Regions from separate parts of the Homo sapiens genome. Here regions 1 and 2 are each linked to region 3. The links come from fine-mapping of genetic effects on gene expression. A gene starts in region 3. Each other region holds a variant in brackets. All regions are shown on one strand. Distances are between the middles of the regions.

Evidence for each region. PIP is the estimated chance that this variant, and not a neighbour inherited with it, causes the effect.
Region 1: its variant is the best candidate, but not a certain one, in a credible set for the expression of PAPOLA in aorta (GTEx, PIP 0.77).
Region 2: its variant is the best candidate, but not a certain one, in a credible set for the expression of PAPOLA in whole blood (TOPMed, PIP 0.69).

What each region holds. Positions count from the first base shown.
Region 1 is chr14:96,576,612-96,584,793 of GRCh38, forward strand. No RefSeq gene overlaps it. Among named protein-coding and RNA genes, the nearest start is that of PAPOLA, 78 kb to the left of the region's middle. The variant C/G (reference allele first, on the strand shown) is at 4,020.
Region 2 is chr14:96,518,236-96,526,417 of GRCh38, forward strand. PAPOLA (poly(A) polymerase alpha) reads left to right here. Exons shown (of 22, transcript NM_032632.5): 2 at 1,820-1,993; 3 at 2,771-2,837; 4 at 7,075-7,156. Among named protein-coding and RNA genes, the nearest start is that of PAPOLA, 20 kb to the left of the region's middle. The variant G/T (reference allele first, on the strand shown) is at 4,899.
Region 3 is chr14:96,498,702-96,506,883 of GRCh38, forward strand. It overlaps PAPOLA (poly(A) polymerase alpha), which reads left to right and starts at 3,681. Exons shown (of 22, transcript NM_032632.5): 1 at 3,681-3,899. The coding sequence starts at 3,892. It overlaps PAPOLA-DT (PAPOLA divergent transcript), which reads right to left and starts at 3,625. Exons shown (of 1, transcript NR_122121.1): 1 at 2,947-3,625. RefSeq lists enhancers at 2,386-2,982, 2,983-3,577, 3,495-3,754, 3,578-4,173, 5,329-5,830 and 1 more and silencers at 3,093-3,436, 3,875-3,994.

The DNA.
Region 1 (8,182 bases), 78 kb after region 3:
CAGCTGCCGTGACAGCTGCCTGGGGGTAGTTACAGATCAGTGAGACCTGGTAATAAGTTGAACTTGTCTGGTTCTAAAGCCCAAGCTGTTTCCATTTTGGGGCACATTTAACAGTTAAAAAGAGGCCCTAGTTATACATGGGGAACAAAACTGATAATAGCCCCTGTCCTTATGAAAGCTTATAGTTCATAGGAGATACAGATGCCGACAACACAAATGAACTGTAAGTTACTAGTGGGCTCTGAACGGAAATAAGAGTGCTTCTGGAAGGTTAGGAGCACCCTTTCAAACTGGACAAGCTTTGACCTGAAGACTAAGGTGGTGCCGAGTGAGGGAGCAGCATGTTTCTTAAGCAGGAAGGAGCTTGGCAACTGCAGAGGAACAGGAAGGTGCTGGAGTTTTAGAGCTTAGTTGGGTTGAGAGAGATGTAGGTGCCCAGATGTATCACAGTGATAGAATAAGAGGTCCAGAAGTGCTGAGGGAGCATGCAGCTTCCTGGTGGCCTTGGGGAGGATGTGGGAGAGCAGGTGCCATTTGATGGGTAGTTTGGCTGTGATCAGGAAACAGAGCAGAGGAGACAGCATGCTAAGTGGAGTGAAGGGCTTGCACCAGGGCACGGGGCAGGAGAGCATGTCAAGGTCAGAGAACAAAGCAGCCAGCAAAGCTAGTGTGTGACTGGGTGGGGCGGGTGGGGAGCAGTAGGTTAGATGTTACTGCCCTATTGAGAAAGATCTTGAGGCTCAGAGCAGCTCAACATGATTAAGATGTGGTCCAGGTTCTTAGTGGTGGTAGAAGCTAAGTAAAGGAGAACAAAGAGCGCACACACACACAAAGACCCTGGGCTTCCGTCACTTGTGCTTGTACCTGGTCCCATATTCCCATATTGGAGACTTGTACCGTTGCATACTTGCTCTCGCACCTCCCTTCCTTCCAGATCCAGCTTCATGCTGGATAAAAGAAATGTTTACATCCCAAATAGGATGGAGTGGACGGTGCCAGATTTCACACTACCCAGAGGGCTGCACAATTTACTACTTATAAGTTGTTTATTTCTGGCATTTTCCATTGAATATTTTCAGACTGTGGTTGGCTGCAGGTAACTGAAACCACGGAAAGCAGAACCATGGATAAAGGGGATTACTGTACTACAAATTCCAAGGTCCTGATAGAGAAGTCTCTTCATTAGGGAACTAGACCGCTTGCCTTAAAATGCATTTGGCTTGCAAGGCGGGTGCGAGGGAACGATATGTCACAAGCTAGCAGAGGCTGTGGGCAGTGTGCCCTTTACGTTCTGACACGCGTGGGGGCCCACATCTCTGCAGAGTCCTCCCCTTGAAAGCCTTTTAGTCCCTGACATCCATCATTGTGGGGGCTCAGCTTGGCTGAGCTGAATATTTATGAGTCATTATTTAATTAAGCCTTTCATACTTTCATTGATAAATGCAGTCACCCCTTGCCCCATTAGTCCCCACCACCACCTTGCAGCCCACAGCCAACTTCCAGCCCAGGCGCTGCTCCTCATTCTGTTCCTGGCATGCTGTTGACTGCCCTCCAGTGTCTACCACCCACTGGAGAGAAATCAAGGCCGGGATTCCTTTCAGTGCCCCCAGTATGTGGAGGCAAAGAGAGACATTTGCACTGACCATTGGTAGATGCTATAGTTTGACCAAACGGCCCCTATTCCTAGGTGTTTGGCAACTTGTAGCCCAAGTGGAAGACGGGAGAGAACAACCCAACAGGCATCTGGGGAGGTGCCTGTTCTCCTGACGCTGCCTGTCTGTCTGATGGTTCTATTAACAGCCTTCAAGAAGGATGAAGGGGAGGGTACAACAGTGAACAACAAACATCTCAGTCAGGAGAGGAATTTCAAGACGGGGTGGGCCTGGGTGGGAAGAGGAGAAATGAGGACAAAGCTTTGGAAACTTTGCTAGGAAGATGTAATGGGAATGTGGCCCGAGGTGAGGCTCACACACCTGGCCCCTGCGTCGTCAAGAAGCACCGCACAGGAGGTGAGGGTGCTTCTTCCCCACCCGTGGACAACTTGCCTAGCACCTTGGTTTCTGAACTTAAGCCACTTGAGTCCACTTGCAGCAGTACTTGGGGCCCCAGCCTGTCCCTTTCACTGAGAATCTGGGAGTCTGGGCACCTGGGGGTGTGGCAGTCTTCCTGGAGTTGGAGTGCTTTCCCATGGCAGCCTGGCCTGGCATGTCCAGTGACGCACTGCTCCACATGCTGCCCTCTTCTTCCTGGCTATGCTCTGGGTTAGGCGCCAGAGGGAGCGGGCATCTCTTCCCTGGAACCTGGAGCAGCAGGTAGGAAGGGAGGATGTGAACCGTGTACGGCAAGCTTGTTTATTCATTCAGCAGCACCTCCTGAGCCCCAAGTGCCTGGCATGAGTTCTGGGTGTGTCAATGAGTTAGCCGAAGCCTGTCCCCTCTTCCACTTGCCACGACGTGCTCTTCTGTGTGCGTGGAAGTTCTTGCCCCAGCATCTCACTGCTCACCTCCTGTTGTACTCAGCTGGGTTTCACTCATCCCACAGGATATACCTTAGATATCATCATCTCTGAGAAGTCTTCTGATCCCTTAGGCTGGGTTAGATCTCCACTCCCAAAGCACTCTGTAGCTAAATCTCTTAGCACTTACCATATTGTGGTATTGCCCGAGTTGGGAGCAGCTCTTGCAAAGCTGAGGCCGTGTCTTGATGCATGTCTGTAGCCACAGTGCATGATGTGTAATAGCTGCTTGTCAGTGTCTGTGGAAATTCAGTGAATGAAGGACTTGACCAAGTTCTTCCCGAGGAGCTCCCAGTGTACCAGTGGAATATGAGCTCATGTGTATTAAGACTTCATGGTCTAAAGATTGTGCTAAATGCCTTACGTGGACTATCTCACTGAATCCTCCCAACAATCCTTTGAAGCACGTATTACAGTTCCCATTTTCCAGATGTTGAAACCGAGGCACAGAGAAATACTTGTCCAACGACCCATGGTGCCAATTGCAATGATGGGAATGTTTAAGGGTGATGGGACAGAGAAGAGGGGCACCTGACTGTGTGCTACGCACTGTTTGGTACTATGCACACCTCTCATCTAGTACCCAAAACAGCCCTGCAGGACTGCTTTTGTTACCTGGAACCTAAGAATTCAGAGAAAGTCAGTGACTTGTCCAAGGCCACCAGCTGGGAAGCAGTGGAGCCAAGATTCAAACCCTATGTTCTTAGGCAGACAGACCCCAAAGAGAGGACTCTCGGGTATCATAGCTTGAACGCTAAGGGGGCCCCTCGAGGCAGGAGCTGTGTCTGCCTGTGCTCTCTCCCACTTTACTGGAAAGGGGCTCTGACATGAGAATTCTGTTTTATTTTTGAGACAAGGTCTTGCTCTGGCACCCAGGCTGGAGTGTAGTGGTGCAATCACAGCTCACTGCAGCCTTGACCTCCCGGGCTCAAGTGATCCTCCTACCTCAGCCTCCAGAGTAGCTGGAACCACGGTGCACGGCACCACAGGCCCAGCTAATTTTAAATTTTTTCTTTTGTAGAGACAGGGTCTCTCTTTGTTTCCCAAGCTGGTCTCAAACTTCTGGGACCAAGTGATCCTTCTGCCTTGGCCTCCCAGTGTTGGGGTTATAGGTGTGAGACACCACACCTGGCCTGACATGACAGTCCTGACTGTCATTTGCTGAATAAACCATGATAGGGAGCCCAGCTAATTGGGATGCACTAGTAACTGGACAGTCCTCTCAGATCTCAGGGGCCACTGTCAAAGCCCTTTTCCTGGATTAAGACTCATGGCTGGTTACCCTGAGTCTTCCAGTCTACCACCTCTCTGGCTATGGCAGGTTTTGCAGAATAAAGTGACTGAGGCTTAACAAGTTTGTGAGTGTGGCCAAAGCCAGTGTAGCATAGGACTGGACCAGTGCTGGTGAAGGAAATTAAGCTGTAACTTGTGGGATTTCAAGAAACCAATCTTGGTCTGTAAGTCGTTTTTATAAAAATGAATATGCGATCACTGCCCTAACTCT[C/G]GTTTCTTTAAACGGATGCCAAGAGCATTCAAGGGAGAGCAATGCCAAATTTACATTCAGCTTTAACAGTTTGTCCTTCCGAGGAGCACAGGCTGACTTTAGAGTAATTCCTGTGATCATCACAAATGGAGTTGGCATTAAAAAGGGTGAAGGGAAGACTCAGGAAGGAGGACAGACACTCCGTGCTACACGCGAAAGCTTGTTTATCTGGAAGCCTGGCTTGCAGTTCCTGCATCCCTCTGGAACCCAGCCCTGAATCTCTGAACCGAGCAGTAAGTAGAAAAGGCTTCTAGGCTCTGGGAAGAAATGTCACACAGCCCATGCACCAAGGTCACGCCCTGTCCTCTAGGTGCACAGCAAAGGTCTTCGTGGCTGTCTCCTGTGTCATTTGTGGTTAACACTCGACTTATGTGCCGGTTTTCACAACTCACAGCAGATTATCCTAGAGGCCTGTAACTTCAGCTAGCTTCAAGTATAGCAGGTATGACACTAAATGTCATCACATACCTGATCGTTTTTACTCCTCACAGAAAACAGGCCTTGTAAACTGTATTTCACAGATGAGGAAACTAGTTCCCTTAAGAGGTGTCTAGCTTGTAGGCTGCATGTGTCTAGTATAGATAACTGCTGTGCCGACGATTTGCTAATTGCTGTGGGGGGATGGGCACGGGAGAGCTTTTTGGCCTCAGTGGACGTTTTAAGAGATGCACACTTAGAACCACTGGAGCTGTGTCCAGCTAGAGAAACTGTATCCATCGCTACAGACTGGTGAGGTTTTGCACATTTCTCCCAGAAAACCCGAAGGAAGGGGGTTTGGAGAGAGGAGCCAGGAGTGGGGCTCAGAGCAGAGCCGAAAGGAAAGCGCAGGGTGGGATGTGGCTCTGAGCTCTTCCACCCGCCCCGGGGACCTCTGAGATAATACCAACTGCACCCAGTTCCCTAGCCCACACCTGGCAGGTAGCACGTTCACTTCATGACCTTCTTGAATGCGCAGTGCCCCATTCTTTTGAGTTCTTATTACATGTCAAAGGCAAGGACCGTGGCTTCTCTTTTTGTCCACGCGGTACTCACATGGTCTTGATAGGACTGACCTTCTGAGGATCTCCTTGATCTTTCTTTACCTATATAAACAAAAATTAAATTTAAACACAGCTGTATTCGCATATGAACAAAAAACTACCATTAGGTGTTTGTCTCTCAGCAAATTATTTCTCCTCTCTAGGCCTCAGTTTTTTCATCAATAAAATGAGACCATTAGACCGAGGAGGAACTTCTGGCTCCAAAACCCTTTGGGTTCTAAGTCTTCTCTTTGAGAATGTTCTCCACTCCCCCAAACTGATTTGACATAATTTGGTCTCTCCTCCCATTCCAATGGCCTCTTTCCTGCCTAGTCCTTGCCTACCAGCCACGCCCCCTCTGGCATGCCCCACCCACCTTTCTCTGTTTGCTGCTCTGGAAGAGAAGGATCCTGGCTTCTCAGAGCCCTGGTGAATACAGATACTGCCTCGTTTGCATATTAACACTGGTGCCAGTCTGAGCCCAGCTGTGTGCAACGTAAGGTGAAATATAGATTCCCCCAACCTGGCCACAGTGTCTCCACGCGGCTAATGGAAAAGCCTTCGGAGTGGGCCCATGTTGCATATGCATAAGCTTTCCTTTGGCCGTGGATGGGCATTGGGTGCTCTTACTCCCATTTCAACTGTGTCTCTGTGCTTCTTTGGGTTTCCTTCAAGATTAACAGGCCATCTGGGCTAAACAGCTATTTGAAGTGACTTGGCCAGGCCCTGGGCTGGCCTCTTGGGAACTCTGGGACTTGAGTGTTGAACCCGAGCCCCGCCCTCCTGCTCACCCACTCAGCATGGCAGCAGCAGCTTTTATGTATCAGCAGCGACCTAGAACTAGGCCAAGCATCCCCTTCACCTCCTGCAGGATGAAGGTCAGGCTCCTCACACGGTGTCGGAGGTCCTGCTTCCCCTGCCCCTGGGCCCTCTGTTACACCCATCATCCCGTGTCCAGACTTACCACAGCTCCTGAGCAGGCCTGGTGTTCTCCTGCCTGCCAAGCCTTCGCACCTGCTGCTTCTTCTGCCCTTTGGGCGTTCCTGGGGGTGGGGGGTGCAGAGAGGAGGATCTAGGGCTCCCCTCTGTGTTCCTGCAGCCCAGTGTGTCTGCCTCTGGCACACACCTGCACTTGGAACTCACATCTGTCCCTGCTGGACCCTGGGTCCTCCCTGGGACTCTGGCCTCGCACCTGCACACAGTGGATGCCACCAAGCGAGGAAGGCTCAGGGCCAAAGCGTTTTAACCCCTTTACCGAGAACCTGAGTTGTAAGAACTTGCTGAATCTTGCTACATACAGATGCGGCACCTTAATGGAAATGGCTAAACAGAGAGAGGTTTTGCTGGTGAAGGTTTTTGTTGCTATTGCTGCTCCTGCCACTGAAGGCTTTCTCAGGAGGAAGCCCCTCAAACCACCCCCTCACCCTGGGAAATAGGAAGGTGGGCTGCCTGTCTGTGTGGCCAGCTCAGTCACTGGGGGGCGGTGAGCACAGTGGCCGGATGCCACTGCAGCCTCCCCACCTTCTCCCTGCCCTCCATCTGCCCCTGCCAGGTCTTCCAGGCACCCACTCTCTCCTTCCACTCCTCGATCGGGGTAGCTGGAAGAGCAGAGGGGCTAAATTGAGTTTATATAGCTTTCCCTGTATATATTTAGAGATAAGAAGTTCATTTAGGGATCAGGGGCTGCTGCTTCTCTATGCATCATTAAGCACACCACATCTGCTACTGAGCTAGCAATCAGCAGAATATTGAGAAAAGTTATAAAGAAATCTTTGCATCGGTTCATTTTCATTCTCAACTCCCTGTGTCCTGGCTCTCAGATTTCTGTGAGCGAGTGCAGGGGAGGAAATGGAGCCGCGGCTGTTGGGGCCATGCTTTGGGAGCTGGGGCTGGATTCAGATAATTCATCTTGGACCTGCTGTCTTTTCTCGGTGTGTGTGCCTATGTGCGTGTGTGTGTGCAAGCATGTGAGTGTGTGTTGGGGGAGGGCGGGTGGTGGTGTTGAGGAGATGGTCTATGGAAAGCTGTGCATGCATTGTCCCATGGTGGCCACGCCAGGAAGGGCATGTCGCCTGATCAAGTCCTGAGCATGTCGCCATGGCAGTCCTGAGCACTGTCCTGCAGGTAGGCTGAGGCTGCAGACCAGACTTAGGTGCCATCTCCCTAGATGACCTTGACCAAGCCACCTCCCTTCTGTGGTCCTCAGTCTTCCGGGCTGTAAAGTGAGGGCACTGGGCCAGGTGGTCGCGCCTTGCTGAGAGGAGCAGGGGGAAGGTGAGCTAGTGCAGCACAGAGCTGGCTCTCAGTAAAACCTGTTTGGATGCTGCCACTGTGGCGACTGGTGTTCTCTGGTCCCTGCTGCCTCCCCACCCAGCAAGTTCCCATGGCCTTGGCTTTCTTAGGTTGGTGGCTGAGTGGGGAGAGTCACAGGCACAGGTGCTGGGTTCTGGAGTCTCGGGGCTAGAAACTGTTGCCTTGTGGCCTCCTCCCAGAACAGCAGGTGGGTCTGCCCTCTCTCTAGCTCCTATACCAGGCCCAGAGAACTCAGTCTCCTCAGCCTCTCCCTGGGGACCCCTGGCAAGGGCATTGGTGGCCAGGTGGCCCAAGGTCCCTCAGCCCCCTCCCAGGGCAGTTGTCCCGCAGAGTGACATGTGGCAGGTTAAACTGCAGGTGTCACTGTTAGCCCTGAAATGGGGGCTTGGTTGGGCCGGCCTGTGGGCAGCCGCAAAGGAATCTTCCTGGCTTAGCGGCTTGGCCGGCTGAGGGAGCCCCGGAGCGGGCGCAGCACTCCCTGCTCTTATGCTTTGCCTCCCTGGCTGTGTGGACATTGCCCACCCTTAGCTAAAGCAAGGACGATACTAACTGACCACAGCCTGGCCCCAAGAAAGCACCATTTTCACAAGGCACGCAAATGGCTCTCTGAACACCTGTAATTAGAAGGAATGCTCAAAACCCGGACATTTGTGGGATCAGCATTTAACCTCGGCCAACCCCTCAGGAAGGAGGGGCGCAGGGAGGCTGAGTGCAGCCACGTCCATGCAGTCAGTGTGGCCAGCCTGGGGGGCCTGTGAGGACTGAGGGAGGGTGGGGACCCCTGGGTAGAAG
Region 2 (8,182 bases), 20 kb after region 3:
TTAGTAACACGCAGTATGGGCTTCTTGGCATTCTTAGATCTTTCTTGATATCACAAGACAAATTACAGAACAGTCTAGCCGTTGGAGTATAGACCAGAACCCAGTGGATTTGTTCAGTAAATGTATCATAAGCCTTACTTGCATAGCATTCTTAGATTTAGCACTTTATTGCTTTTTGCTTTTTTTTTTTTGAGACGGAGTCTCGCTCTGTCCCCCAGGCTGGAGTGCAGTGGTGCGATCTCAGCTCACTGCAAGCTCCGCCTCCCAGGTTCACGCCATTCTCCTGCCTCAGCCTCTCCGAGTAGCTGGGACTACAGGCGCCCGCCACTACGCCCAGCTAATTTTTTGTATTTTTAGTAGAGACGGGGTTTCACTGTGGTCTCGATCTCCTGACCTCGTGATCCGCCCACCTCGGCCTCCCAAAGTGCTGGGATTACAAGCGTGAGCCACCGCGCCTGGCCTTTATTGCATATGTAGATTATCACACTTTAACTTAAAGTAGAAATTGTATTTAGAACTTGGTAAAAAAAAGTAGCTGTGGTTGGGCATGGTGGCCCATGCCTGTAATCCCAGCACTTTGGGAGGCCAAAGGGAGCGGATCACTTGAGCTCAGGAGTTCGAGAGCAGCCTGGCCAACATGGTGAAACCCTGTCTCTACTAAAAATATAAAAATTAGCCGGGTGTGGTGGCATGCACCTGTAGTCCCAGCTACTCGGGAGGCTGAGGCAGGAGAATCGGTGGAACCTGGAAGGTAGAGGTTGCAGTGAGCTGAGATCGTACCACTGTACTCCAGCCTGGGTGACAGAGCGAGACTCCATCTCAAAAAATAAGAGGTAGCTGTGTGTGTGTGTAAAATACACTTTTTTTTTTTTTGGTAGAGACAGGGTTTCAGCATGTTATCCAGGCTGGCCTCAACTCCTGGGCTCAAGCCATTCTCCCACTTCAGCCTCCTGAAGTGCTGGGATTACAGGGGTGAGCCCACACCTGGCCTATAAACACTTAATTTCTTAAGGAATGGAATTTGGGAGAAATAACCGATCCAGATTTTGGGTCTTTCCTTATTGTGTACTTGGTTTTGTATGTTATTCAACTGTTAGTTTAAAATTATTATGTTGACTTCTTAATTTAATGAAAAAATATTTATGAAAAAAGATTGAGTCAGATTTATTTCCTAAGCATTTAAAGCATGCTATGCCTTTTTACAAATTTGGAACTTATCTTAAAATGGATAAAATAGCTGTGTGTGTGTAAAATAAACCTTTTAGACTAGCATCATTATCGAAGTGTAAATCTCTTAAAAAGATCATTAACAAGCTTAAGGTATATTCACCCTAAGGGAAAGAACTATATTCAGTTCTTTCCCTTCAAATTTTGTTTAAGTTTTTGCTATTTGCTTCATTATCTATGAACTTCGTTCATTGTAAGCCAGATGCCAGGTTTCATTTGGGGAATGTCTTATATTGGTAAAGTAGCATTTCTGTAGCGTGTTTATCAATGTTTAAGAAACAGATTTTGGCTTCTTTTCAAGAGGTGAAATTTCTCAGAAGTTTACTATATTCTGAATTAGTGTTTTCTCTAGCAATGTATTTGGTCTGGATTCTAACTTAGATGTTTAAGTAGTGACAGTTAAAATCCTTGGGGCAGGATTTTCTCTTTGGTCACTTGCTTTTGGTCACTTTTTGTCAAAAATTTTGGGGGTATTGCAGGGAACCAATCATGTTTAGAAATGTGTGTTACTAAATTAGTTTTTCTGGTCTTACTGATTTGTTTCAAATTGTAGAATTCTTTTGGCAGTAATTGTATCCAATTTTGTTTATAGTCCAGTTACAACACAGGGATCACAACAAACACAACCGCCACAGAAGCACTATGGCATTACTTCTCCTATCAGCTTAGCAGCCCCCAAGGAGACTGACTGCGTACTTACACAGAAACTAATTGAGACATTGAAACCCTTTGGGGTTTTTGAAGAGGAAGAGGAACTGCAGCGCAGGTAAATAGATATTCTATATTTTTTTAACTCGGAAACTTTTATTAATGTTGACATAAACTAATTTTGAGGCATTCTCTACTTACTTAGAAGACCAGGGTTATTTGCCCAGATCTATATATCTGTTTTGGAGAAGAGGGATACTTAAGAGAGAAAACTTTTTGTTTTTGAGACGGAGTCTTGCTCGTTACCCAGGCTGGAGTGCAATGGTGTGATCTTGGCTCACCACAGCCTCCGCCTCCTGGGTTCAAGCGATTCTCCTGCCTCAGCCTCTCGAGTAGCTGGGATTATAGGTACCCGCCACCACGCCCGGCTAATTTTTTGTATTTTTAGTAGAGGTGGGGTTTCACCATGTTGGGCAGGCTGGTCTCGAACTCCTGAGCCTTGGTCTCCCAAAGTGTTGGGATTACAGGCGTGAGCCACCGTACCTGGCTGAAAACTTTTATTTTCTACATAGAGTTCTCTTCCCTTAATTTTGATGTTATTTATTTTTTTTTCTGAAGAATTAATTTTGATTTTTTATGCTTTTGGTTATTATAGTACTGAATTGTCTGGAGAAAAAGGAATGCCTTACTCAGTGTAACAGTGCCTGTATATATATATAGAAAGAGAGAGAGAGAGAAAGCGAGAGAGAGAGCGAGCGAGCGTGCACTAACTACAATATACTGTGCTTCTGATTGCTTAAAAACTCATAATTTAGGAAGAACGCCTATTTAAAACTTTAAGAAATTTAATCAGTAATGATCTGGAATACTTGATTGATAATTGTTTTATCAACAGGATTTTAATTTTGGGAAAACTAAATAACCTGGTAAAAGAGTGGATACGAGAAATCAGTGAAAGCAAGGTAAGGCAACTTTTTTGTATATGAAATAATTTCATATATAGCCAACTGAACACAGCAAGTGTCTTATATAACCTGTTCTTATTTGAGTGGATTTGGAGTCTTTAATGTGGAGTCAATTTTAGACTATTGATAACAGATTTTACATTATTTTTCTAGTTAATTTGGAAGCAGGAAAAACTGAACTGAGTTAAGCGATTTTTAAAAATAAGTATAGTACTCTTTGTTTGGAACATTTGAAAACTGAAACTCAGTAATTGTAAAGTACTTACACTCTTCACAGAAATAATGGATGTTTCTCTAAAAAGGTGCTTTAAACATATTTGAGACTCTTCTTACCTTTTAAGAAATTCTGCCACAGTTAGTTTTTAAAAAAGATTTTCAGGTATTATTCAAACTGAATATTTATTTATTTATTTATTTTTTATTTATTTTTTTTGAGACAGGGTCTCGCTCTGTCATTCAGGCGGAGTGTAGTGACACCATTATAGTGCACTGTAACCTGAAATTCCTGAGTTCAAGCAGTCCTCCTGGCCTCAGCCTCCCAAGTAGCTAGGACTATAGGCATGTCCCTTCACACCTGGCTAATGGTATATGTGGAGTCTTGCTGTGTTGCCCAGACTGATCTCAAACTCCTAGCCTCAAGCAGTCCTCTCATCTTGGCCTCCCAAAGTGCTAGTGTTCCAGGCGTGAGCCGCTGCCCGGCCTATTTAGTTTTCTGTAATAACATTCTTTGGGTTTCCTTTTTTCTTTCTTTATTGAGACAGAGTCTCACTCTGTCACCCAGGCTAGAGTGCAGTGGTGCCACTGCAACCACCACCTCCCGGGTTCAAGTGATTCTCATGCCTCAGCCTCCTGAGTAGCTGGAATTGCAGGCGGGCGCCACCATGCCCAACTATTGTTTTTATTTTTAGTAGAGATGGGGTTTCTCCATGTTGGCCACGCTGGTCTTGAGCTCCTGACCTCAAGTGATCCACCTTCCTTGGCCTCCCAAAGTGCTTGGGATTATAGGCATGAGCCACTGCATCTAGCCTCTTTCTTTCTTTCTTTTTTTTTTTTTTTTTTTTTTTTTGAGACAGTCTTGCTCAGTTGCCCAGGCTGAAGTACAGTGGCACCATCTTGGTTCGCTGCAACCTGTGCCTCCTGCGGCCAACTGATTCTCCTGCCTCAGCCCCTCAAGTAGCTGGGATTACAGGTGTGTGCCACCATACCCAGCTAATTTTGTATTTTAGTAGAGATGGGCTTTTGCCACGTTGACCAGCTGGTCTCAAACTTTTGGTCTCAAGTGATCTGCCCACCTCGGCCTTTCAAAGTGCTGGGATTACAGGCGTGAGGTACTGTTCTGTCCTCTTTTTTTTTTTGAGACAGGGTCTCCCTCTTGCCCAGACTGGAGTGCAGTGGCATGATCTTAGCTAACTGTATCCTCCACCTCCCGGGCTCAGGCAATCCTCCCACCCCAGCCTCCTGAGTAGCTGGGACTATATAGGTGGGCACCACCAAGCCTGGCTAATTTTTTGTAGCGATGGCTTTTCACCATGTTGCCTAGGCTAGTCTCGAACTCCTGGGCTTAAGATATCTGCTTGCCTTGGCTTCCCAAAGTGCCAGGATTACAGGGGTGAGCCACTGCCCCAGCCCCTTTGAGTTTCTAACACTTCATTATGAATACTCATACATACAACTCATAAATACATGGCTGGGCTTCTTCTGGTAGAGAAAATGTATTTGTAGAGTTGTGTGTGGAGTTCATTTGACCCATTTAAAAAAATAACATAAATAGTGGTAATTTTTCCAGGGTAGTACAAAATCCGTGTTTAATCTATAATATAACTGAAAGGTTGAAAAGAGAACCAAGGGTAAAGGAAAAATTTCATAGAGCAGGGAGACAGGGTGTCAACTTAAAAGTTGTAGTCTTTTGGTTTTAATGAAATTTATAGTACTGTTTACTTATGCAGTGTATATGTATATTTCAAAATACAAATTAAACTTCAGCAAATGTAGTATTCTAAATTATGGACTTTACGTACCATGTGTTTCTTACTGATTTTAGTTTCTGATAGAAAATAA[G/T]ATTTTTTTTTTGGTTTGTTTGACATCTAATACTCTTCACTTAAAAATGAAAAAAAGATTTTGCAAGTGAAAATGTTTTTCCATGACCTGAATTAAGAAATCTTAATTTCTGGGTTACAATGATGATAATAAGTATAAACATACTAATATCTAAAAATGTAGTTTATAATATACTAGTCACTAGTCACCAGCCAGGTATTTAAATAAAAATTAAAATTAAACATTCAGATTCTTGACTACACTAGCAACATTTCAGGTGCTCAACAAAAGTGATAACAGTGACAGAATATTTACATCCTTGCAGAAAGTACCATTGGAGAGTATTCTTCAAAAGATTGTTATGTCTTAATAGAGAAGTCTGTGGACCAGTGTTTTAAGATAGTTTCTCCTTCACCTCCTTTGTAGGCTACTTGTGCACACGTCTTGCTGGCTAATTTTAAATAACCAGGTCAGCGTTGCCATTGAGGTTTTAAAATATCTAAACATAGGAAGACAAAGGCTTTGCTTACTTTTAAGAAATACAACATTACAGCCAGGCGCAGTGGCTTACGCCTGTAATCCAACACTTTGGGAGGCCAAGGTGGGCTTATCACGAGGTCAAGAGTTCGAGACAAGCCTGACTAACATGGTGAAACCCTGTCTCTACTAAAAATACAAAAATTAGCTGGGCGTGGTAGTGCGCGCCTGTAATCCCAGCTACTCAGGAGGCTGAGGCAGGATAATGGCTTGAACCGAGGAGGCAGAGGTTGCAGTAAGCCGAGATTGCGCCCGTTGCACTGCAGCCTGGGTGACAGAGCGAGACTCTGTCTCAGAAAAAAAAAAAAAAAAATTACACACATAACTTGTCTATTAGTGTCTATAGTGATGGTTAAATATGCTCTTAAAAAACAGGAGTCTCTGACTGTTTAGAACTTGGCTTTAGGGTTTTTTTGGAGTATGAAATAACACTTCATTTTATGTCCTTTTTCTTTTTTTTGAGAGGAAGGGGGGTGGTCTTTTACATGTTTTGGTACTGAATAGATATTTTATTATACTGAGGAGTTAGGTAAAAGGAAATATTGACTAAACACTTCATAAAATTGTTTTTGTTTGGACAGACCTTGTCATTCTTACGAGCAGGGCCATTGAATACTAAACCGTAAAGCTTGGGACTTTACACTAGTGCCAGGGCCAGGAAGGCAGTTTTTGAATGCTTTCTCCCTCTTCCTGATGATGCTACTCTTTCTGAGTAAGAAAAGAAAATTTAGTTGTTTCTAAATTACTTCACTAAAGCCTTTTGGAAATCTAAAAAACTAAGCAATTATTTACCAATATTGGCTTTTTCTTCTCTGCTCTGCTGTCCCTTTCCCCTTCCCGTTCCCCTTCCCCTTCCCTTCTTCCCCTCTTCCCCTTCCCCTTCTCTTTTTTTGAGACAGGGTCTGACTGTCGCCCAGGCTAGAGTGCAGTGGCGTGATCATGGCTCACGTAGCCTTGACCTGTAGGACTCAAGCAATCCTCCCACCTTAGCCACCTGATTAGCTGGGACTATATGTGCATGCCACCATGCCCAGCTAATTTTTAAAACATTTTTTGTAGAGACGGGGTTTCACATGTTGCCGAAGCTGGTCTCAATCTGGGCTCAAGCAATTGGCCCGTCTCACCCTCCCAAAGTGTTGGGATTATAGGCGTGAGCCACTGTGTGTGGCTACTATTGGCTTTCAAGTCACTTTTGATATGATAAAAAAAATACTCTAATATGTTGTGGGATATTTGGTAAAAATCGTTGAATATAATCTTTTTCTTTAAAGCAATCAGAATATGTTTTTATTATACTCTAAATTGGTGATTCATTTTATATACAGCATCTTTGTCATGAATAAAGTCCCCGATTCTAACGTGCTCCTGTGGGATTACATGATCTTCTCAATCACAGTCTTCTTTATAGTAGTTTCTAGAAATAGGGCAAGAATCTAACAATAAAGAATAAACCTCTTTAAAAGTTGAAAATGGTTTGAATTTCAAATATGATTGATCTGAGGGGCTGGTATTTTTTAAGAACTTTTATAGACTTTGAATACCCTTTATATAAATTTACACTGTAATCTTTCTTGGATCCACTCCCTCACCCCAGTATAGTATCATTTGAATAGTTTCCCTTGTGCTCCACTGGCAAAATAACCATTTTTTGTTTCAACAGAATCTTCCACAATCTGTAATTGAAAATGTTGGAGGAAAAATTTTTACATTTGGATCTTACAGATTAGGAGTGCATACAAAAGGTAAGTATTATTTCATTTTTCTTAGAAAGGGACCCTTTAGTTCTTAAAAATTATGACATACCCGTCTCAGTTACTTGTGTATCATATAGCTTAGGCTTGCATGGAAGAGAGAGTGCTTTGAGGAGTCTAAATTTTTCAGTAAGAAAGATGTAAAATAATGCTGACTTCTATATCGCCACTGTCCAAAAGTATTATTAAGATTAAATGAAATTAGCTTAGTGTGGTGACTCATATCTGTAATCCTAGAACTTTGGGAGGCCGAGGCAGGTGGATTGCTTGAGCCCAGGGAGGTCAAGGCTGCAGTGAGCTGTGATTGCATTGCTACACTTCAGCCTGGGTGACAGAACAAGACCCCGTCTCAAGAAAAAGTAAATAAATAAATTAAAAACTCAGAGTTTCAGTAGAGGTAGCCACATTTTATCTGTTCAGTAGCCACATATGGCTAGTCGTTACTGCATTGGAAAGTACAGATACAGAGTAGTTTTTCTGTTGGAGAGCTCTTTTGTACAGTGCTGCTATCTACATATATATCATTTTCCCTCACCAGAAGAATATCACTCTGGAAATAGAACAAAAATGAATTCTAGCTTTTAAGAAAACTCATGGATGCCCCCCGCTAATACCTTTATAGACAAATTATAAAATATAGCTAAGCAAAAGCAAACCCCAAAAATGTGTATTCATAGCCAATGATAATCAGTTAATAGTTTATACTTGTAGTTATTTCCTCTATGCAAATAAATACACAATAAAAATGTTACCTCGGCAAAGAACATTTATTGAGCTTCTTTTCTTTCACTGAGTACTGAGATCTTCATTATCTTATTTAGTTCTTCCAGTACTGTTATTCTCACATAACAAACAGGAGCCTGAGACTAAAAGAGGCAATAAAGCTTGAACAGTTTTTCTCAACCTTCTAGTGGCAGAGTAGGTACAACTCAGGCATCCCGAGGCTGTACTGTCTTTGGGTCTTGCTCTGTTGCACAGGCTGGATGCAGTGGCACAGTCTTGGCTTACTGCACCTTC
Region 3 (8,182 bases):
TCTTCCTTATTTCAAACTTCATTTCTCATCTGAAGGATTGCAAGAGCCGCCTCACCCATCTTCCAGCTTCAAAACCTCTCCTAGTTCAAATTCATTCCTTACACTTTCAGTCATCTTTCCAAAAATATAAATGTAACCTAACTCCTGTTTTAAAACTTTCAATGGCTCCTCCATTCACAAAAACAAAAATTCAAAATCGCTCAGAATTAACTTCAGGTCTCAGCTCAAAGGTCAGTTCCTCTGAAAAGCCTTCTCTATCTGAAGTTGGCCTCCACCACAACTCTAATGCCTGGTTTATTAATGCCGCTTATCACCATCTATAATTCCTTTGTCTGTTTATGGAGTCATTATATGATCTCCCATCTCCCCCTACTTCCTTTATTTTTGAGACATGGTCTCATTCTGTCACCCAGGCTGGAGCGCAGTGGCATGATCTTGGCTCACTACAGCCTTGACTTCCTGGGCTCAGGTGATTCTCCCACCGCAGCCTTCAGAATAGAGGACACAGGTGTGCACCACTATGCCCCTTATCTTCTGCCTCTCACTTAACTTTGCAGCTTTATTTTCACCACTCCTCACTAAATATTTTGTGGTTTAGTCACTTCAAAAGTTTCCCTTTCTCCAAATAAATTATTTGCACGTTTTAATTTTTATTTATTTATTTATTTATTTCTGAGGCAGAGTTTTGGTCTTGTTGCCCGGGCTGGAGTGCAATGGCACAATCTTGGTCCACTGCAACATGTGCCTCCTGGGTTCAAGCGATTCTCCTGCCTCAGCTTTTGAGTAGCTGGGATTACAGGCGCCCACCACTATGCCCGACTAATTTTTGTATTTTTAGTAGAGATGGGGTTTCAACATGTTTGCCAGGCTGATCTCCAACTCCTGACCTCAAGTGATCTTCCAACCTCAGCCTCCCAAAGTGTTGGGATTACAGGCGTGAGCCACTGCGCCCGGCCTCATTTTATTTTTAAAAATTGTTCTCTTTACCTGAGATGCCCTTCTACTCCTTCTGTCCACTTACCAAACCCTAACATATCAGGACGTGTCTGAAGTGACCTCTTACATGAAGTCTACCTTGACTCCATCCTCAATCCTCAATATTGTTCCTTTTAAATGCCTTAGGCAAGTAGCGTGATATCTAGCACATTCTAGGTACTAAATATTCATCAGCTGTGCTATCTAGCTGCCTCATTCTATGGAAGGCTGAAACAAAAATAGTTTGAAGCAATTATAGACCAAAAGCATGGATGTTTAGCGTCCCTCTCTTCACTGCCTTCTGAGATGCCTGGCAGAGGACAACATAAGCTGAAAAAGTCCCCATTCTTTTATTCATAAAGTACATCGTTAGTGCATTTTTTTTTTTTTTTTTTGAACAATGTCTTGCTCTGTTGCCAAGCTAGAGTGCAATGGCATGATCAGGGCTCACTGCAGTCTCAACTTCCTTGCCTCAGGTGATCCTCCCAACCTCAGCCTCCCAAGTAGCTGGGACTACAGGTGTGTGCCACCAAGGCCAGCTAATTTTTTTGATTTTTTTTTTTAGTAGAGACAACGACTTGCCACGTTGCCCAGGGTGGCCTAGAACTCCCGAGCTCAAGGAATCCTCTGCCTCCCAAAGTGCTGGGATTACAGGTGTGAGTGAGCCACTGTGCCAGGCCCCAGGGCATATCTTTACAAGCTGCTTTGAAGTCCATAGCCTTAATACATTATTGAATTATCTGGATCTCAGATTTTCAGTCTTTTAGGGACAACTATGCTACTGGGTCTCCAGCCAAAGCCACCTTGATGACAAGAGGAAAAGAGACTAAATGGAAGAAATGACAATCAAATATAAGTCTGTTTGCAGATCAGCACTATTTAATGGAAATGAAGGCCACATATATAACTTAAAATTTTCTAGTGGTCACATTTAAAAAAACAGGTAAAATTAATTTTAATAGTATATTTTCTTTTTTTTTTTTTTGAGACAGGATCTCGTTCTGTCAACGCAGGCTGGAGTGCAGTAGTGAGATGACGACTCACGGCAGCCTCCACCTCCCACTCCAGGGATCCTCCTACCTCAGTCTCCGGAGTAACTGGGACCACAGGCAGGAACTACCATGCCCAGCTAATTTTTTTTTCTTTTTTCTTTTTTTTTTTTTTTTTTTAACTTTTTGTATAGACGGGGGTTTCCCTATATTGCCCAGGCTGGTCTCTAACTCCTGCCCAAGCGATCCTCCCACCTCAGCCTCCTAAAGTGCTGGATCACAGGTGTGAGACACCGTGCCCGGCTTACATTTTCTTTACTGCAATATATCCAAAATATTTCAACGTGCAATCAATATAAAAAGTGATCAGTGAGGTATTTCACATTCGTCGAACTGACACCCGTGCGTATTTTGCACTTCCAGTGCCTCCTAAACGAACTAGCCTCATTTCAAGTGCTCAGTGGCCCTAAGTGGCCAAGGGGCTACACTAATGGACAGGGCAGGTCTAGGTCCTGTGTTTTTCCCATTCGGAGTCACCAGTCCTACTAGACATTCTGTGAAAAAAGGGAAAGCCTTTGTGAAACTTCCTGAGGACTCACAAATGCACATTATTACATTTAGAGTTTAGAACTTTGGTTAAGGCAGCGTCCTGTATTTGATTCTTTCCCTCTTCCTCTCCGCTAACCCCCTATGTGACACCGTAGAACTTATAATTCGTTCTAATTCGCAGATGGAGGGCATATGAGAGAGGAGGCTCTGCCTCAAACACTTTCTCAAACTTTTGCCGAGGGGTGGCGAGAAGGTAGACTTCCAGGTCCCACCCGATATAGATTAAGGGCTGGAAACACAGTCAAGGGGAAATTATGACCAAGACAACCTTTGCTAAAATGCCAGCGGTGACTGCCATTGATGTTCCTATAAAAGGTCAGCTCTGTCAGGAAGTTCCAGTGCATCATTTGTTCAAAAGTAAAATCAGCCCGTGTTCCAGAATTCGCGGACTGTCGTCAGTCCTAACCTACACATTTATTCGTTCAACAAATATTTCAGCGCCTGGGTCAGGCATCAGGAATACACTGGTGGTTAAAACAGACGGAAAGCTCCATCTGGTGGGACGCAGTCTGGGAGGGAAAGGGAGTCCTGGGGACATGTTTTCGTCGGCTCTAGGCTAAGCACCTCTCGCCGTAGCACACGGGGTCGGCACCGCTGCCCGGCGAAGTACTTGTTACTTTGCAGTCCAGTACGAAGCGGCGGAGTAACCGGTTCCAACCCAAGGCAGCGACTCATGCGAGTCGTTCTAAGCGCCGCGCTGGGGGGTACATACGGTGCACGCGTGGGTGCCTCACCCCCTGGCAGCGCCTCCAGGGACGCTGCTCCGGGAAAGAGCAGCCGCCGCGACCTCAGGCGGCGGGAAAGGTGGGACCTCACAATGCGCCGGAAGCGGTGCCTCGTGGCTTGGGATCTCTCCGGGTTCTTCCTTGCGCCGTCCACGCCGCACTGCCCACGAGGGCGTCCCCGCCCGAGGGACAACTCACCGCCCGGGGCCTCCCTGAGCGTTCCCTTCCACCATCTGACACCCACTGCTAAGTGTGAGAGGACCCAGGGGGTAATTGCCGGGCCGCAGGCGGCCTTAGGAACTCCGCTTCCCGTGAGGCTTCGCGGCGGACGGCGCTGGTGCGCAGGCGCACGCACGGCGTGCGTGGTGGCGTCAGCAGTTCTAGAACGTTGCTGTGGTAGCGCTCGGGCGCCATGTTAGGACGAAGGGGAAGGAGGAGAAGCGCTTAAAGCGGCGGGAGCGGTGCGGGAGAGGGGTTGGACCCAGGGCTGAGGCAGGCCCCCCCCTCCCTCCCGCCTCAGTGGATCATGCCCAGGGCGGCAGCGGCGGCGGTTGCGGGGGGGAAGTGACTGGGCGGTGCCGGCGCCGGAGACGATGCCGTTGTAAGTAATTTGTATTCTGTTTTCTTTCGCTCGCCGGCTGGGCCTTGGGGGGCGTCCGGGAAGGGGAAGAGGTAGGCGGAGAGGGTGGCACGCGAGCCCGACCCTCCCCGCTGGTAGGAGGCAGGCAGGACTGGGGACCTTCCTGTTTCCTCGCTCGCTCGCCGCCGCACTTCCCCCCGTGTGCTGGGTTCCCGCGTCCCCCGACCCTTCCTGGCTGGGTCAGCTGCCGTCGGGCCGGGGGCCTTCCCCTTCCGGAATTGCTGGCGGAACCTCTAACTCGCCCGGCCACTCCAGCTTCTCCGCCCCGTCCACAAAGAAAATCAAAACAACCCGAAAACAAAACATTGCCTGGTGGTGGGGAACCACGACCCTGCTGCACGCGGGATCAGCACTTGGGGTTCGGGCTCGCTCTCGGCGCCCCTCGGGCCCATTCGATGTTGCTTTTCTGTTCCTGGTCTGTCTCAGTTTGCTCACTCTCTTCCTCCCATTTCCAGATGCCTGTCTTGTGCGCCGGAGTTAGCCCCTTTCCACTGACCTTGTCTGAATGTAGGAGCACGAGTTAAAAGCCCAGCTTTGAGCGTTGAGTCCGCCTGCCTCCACCTCCGCCTCCCTAGCATTCACAGGCGGTCGGAGAAGGGGGCACTTCACAGGGTGCCCTCCTCCAAAACGACTTATGTATTGCTTTCCCTGTTTTGTTTTGATGGGGTAACCAGGTTTCATTCTGTTTCCTTCTTTCTCTATCTCTGGTGATACTTTTTTTTTCCTGGTTGTAAGGCTTGAAGCTAGTCTCTTTATGCTTTCTAATGCCACTGCGCCTTTTTCTTTTCTTGGTGGGTTTTTAAAAAGTTTTTTTCTCCCCTCCCCCTTTCTGATAATGAGATATAATTTGGCAGCTCATTGCCAGTAGATTACGGATTTTTTTTTTCCTGCAAATATACAGCATTGTAGAGGCCTAAATAGTGAGACTGCATTTCTTCCATTTTTGAATATTGAAGCGTAAGAGTGCCTCTTTGAGACCAGGGACCGAGTTTTCTTCATCTTAGTAGCCTCAAAACGCAACATGTAATTGACACTCAAAGTTTTGGTTAAATTCAGGATAAAGATTTTTGTGGTTTCTAGACATCGAATGTAGTAACTCAGGTCTATTTTTTTTTTGTAAGTAAGGATAATTTCTTTAGCACATAATCACCGATTGTAGTTTTACAATTATATATGTGTGTGAATGTGTTTCTTTACAGGTGAGACTCTAACTTTGGCACAGACCTTAATGACTTCTATCGCAATTTATGTATTTTAAAAGGATTTTCCATGGCTCCCACCCACCCCCTTAGGTTATTAAGAAGTCTATCACATTACTTCTGTGATGAAAACGTTTGTTAGACTTAACTAACTATACAGGTCTAAAATCTTGGAATCTGCATGGTTTCTGTTTATTGATTTTTCCCTTTCATAGAATAAGAGACCCTAGGAGAACTGAGTCTAAGCAAGATTGTTGTGGTGTTTCTCAGTTCAATAGGAGATAAATGTTTGCAGTGATGTCGTGATGACTGCGTTATTAAGTTAACATTTTGCTGTCTTTGAAAAGGGACTTCTTTTTCTGATAATCATACCAGCATTAAAAATGATAGATGTAAACCTTAAAAGGCTTCAATGAAGAAATAACATTAAGTAATTTGTGTCTTATTTCTAGGAATTAAAAGTACTTTTATACCTACTTTCCCCCAACATTCTTTGAAGAGGGAAGGTATACATTTCTGTGAAAGACCTTAGGTATTTCAAATTCTTCGCGAGTTAGTTCAAGTGTGTAAAATGGAAGACGGGGCCAGGCGCGGTGGTTCACGCCTGTAATCCCAGCACTTTGGGAGGCCCAGGCAGGTAAATCGCTTGAGGCCAGGAGTTTGAGATCAGCCTGGGCAACATGGCGAAACTTCATCTCAACAAAAAACACAAGTTAGCTGGGCGTGGTGGCTCATGCCTGTAATCCCAGCTACTTGGGAGGTTGAGGTGGGAGGACTGCTTGAGCCCAGGAGGCTGAGGCTGCAGTGAGCCTTGATCATGCCACTGCGTTCCAGCCTGGGTGACAGAGCGAGACTCAAAAAGTAAGTATACGATAATTACTGTAGTAAACAATAGAGAGACCAAAGAATGCCTAGTTAAAGAAAAATAGGGCTTCTTCCTCATTAAGTTGCTTTGTTTTTCATGTACTGCTGTCACACTGTCATAAATGTTGTTTTTTTGATGTGTTGGATTGTGATTTCCCGGCTATATTGTGTTTGGCTTTCATTTTTGGTATACCTGTCCTAATGTTAAATTTGGATGGGTGAGTGGCATTGGGGCATGGACCCTAGGTGAGTTGTCGGAATGAATTTAAATCAAAATTATCGAAATTTAGGATATTACAGAACATTTTGATCAAGTGTCCATATTTTGTCTAAATTTCATATGTAGCTACAAACATACTTTTGGAAAGATTATAGTCTGATTTAAGAGTCATGGTGGTGAAGCTTCTGAAAGTTTTGATAGTCTTTGGATCCATTAAACAGTTTCTCACCTAGTCATTATTGACATTTATGCCAGATTCATTCCTTGCAGGTGCCTGTCCTGTGTATTGTAGTTTAACAGCAGCCTTAGCTTCCACCTACTGGATTCCGGGAGCTCCACCCCTCCATTTCCCCAGTAATGACAATCAAAAATGTCTCCAGATATTACCAGATGTGCCCTGGGGTGCAAAATCTGGTTGAGAACCACGGCATTAACGAAAAGTGTGATGCCCTTATGGAAACTAGATGTATTTCTGCCCTACTCTGTGTTGGTCAGATATTTTTGGCATCAGCTCAGTTCTGAGTATCACACATATGATAAAAAGGTGTGAAGGAGAGTAACCAGTATCAGTAGCATTTATGCCACATGCATAGAATGTTGTCAAAGTTACCAAAAAGAGTTACTGCAAGGTTTAGGCGAGACAATAGCAAAAATGTTTTCGGGGGCTGCACAAAAAAGAGGGAATTGTAGTAGTTTTACATCGCCATAACAAGCAGAACTGGTACCTGCTGGTGGATGGTCTGTGCTTCCCAGAGCGGGATCTGTGGATGCTTGGGGAGGGGGACCACTGAGATCTTTCAGAGGGTACATAATGTTCAAACTATTTTCATGTTATTGAGATGTTTTGTCTTTCAACATTTGTACTTAACGGTGCAAAAGCAGTGGTGGAAAATGCTGTATCCATCATAGGAACAATCAAGGCAGAGAACCGGTATTGTATATAGTCATTTCCTTCCTTCCTTCCTTGCTTGATTCCTTCCTTCCTTGCTTCCTTCCGTTCTTGACGGAGTCTTGCTCTGTCGCCGGGCTGGAATGCAGTGGAGCGATCTCGGCTCACTGCAACCTCCACCTCCCGGGTTCAAGCGATTCTCCTGCCTCAGCCTTCCAAGTATCTGGGACTACAGGTGTACGCCACCACGCTCAGCTAATTTTTGTATTTTTAGTAGAGACGAGGTTTCACCATGTTGGCCAGGATGGTCTCGATTTCCTGACCTCGTGATCCCCCCCCACCTCGGCCTCCCAAAGTGCTGGGATTACAGGCATGAGCCACGGCGCCCGGCTGTCATTTTATTTCTTGAAGACTGCACACTCATAGTTTAAAAAGCTTTTGATGAAACAGTAAAAGGAGGTTAATTTTATTAAATCTTGACACTTTGTTTATTTAATGTACTGTGACCACGGAAAGTACTTGTGAAGCTGTATACTGGGGAGTAGAATGGTGGTTTTGAGGAGCACTTGTATGTTGATTTGTGAGCTAAACTGGTGTTCTCATGGAGCTCCATTTTTATCTGAAAGAACAAGTGATGAACTGTGGATATTCATATTTGAGTATTTAGGAGACTTAAATGAGAATAAAGCAAGTCTGTCACTCCAAGGTAAACAACTGACTATTCCTGGCCAGTGAAAAATTGGAGCTTTCAAGCAAAATATAGAATTTTAGAAAGCTTGCTTTTCCATCATGAGCTTGACGGTTTTTCCCAATACTTAAAAGATGTTTCTGCTGACATTGGTGGTAATATTAATGCATATAGTTTTAATGCTGTATAATGTGTGCTTAAAAAAAGAATGTTTTTTAATATTTGGTAGACCTGTATAATTCAGTGAACCCATATTTTCCAAATGACCATTTGTGATGTAATAAAATCATATGTGCATTCAAGGGTACATTCAGAGTGCAAGGTAAACCAGATTTTAATGCAACAGAGTACCAAGGGCTTATTAATAGGGTTTTAACTTTCATA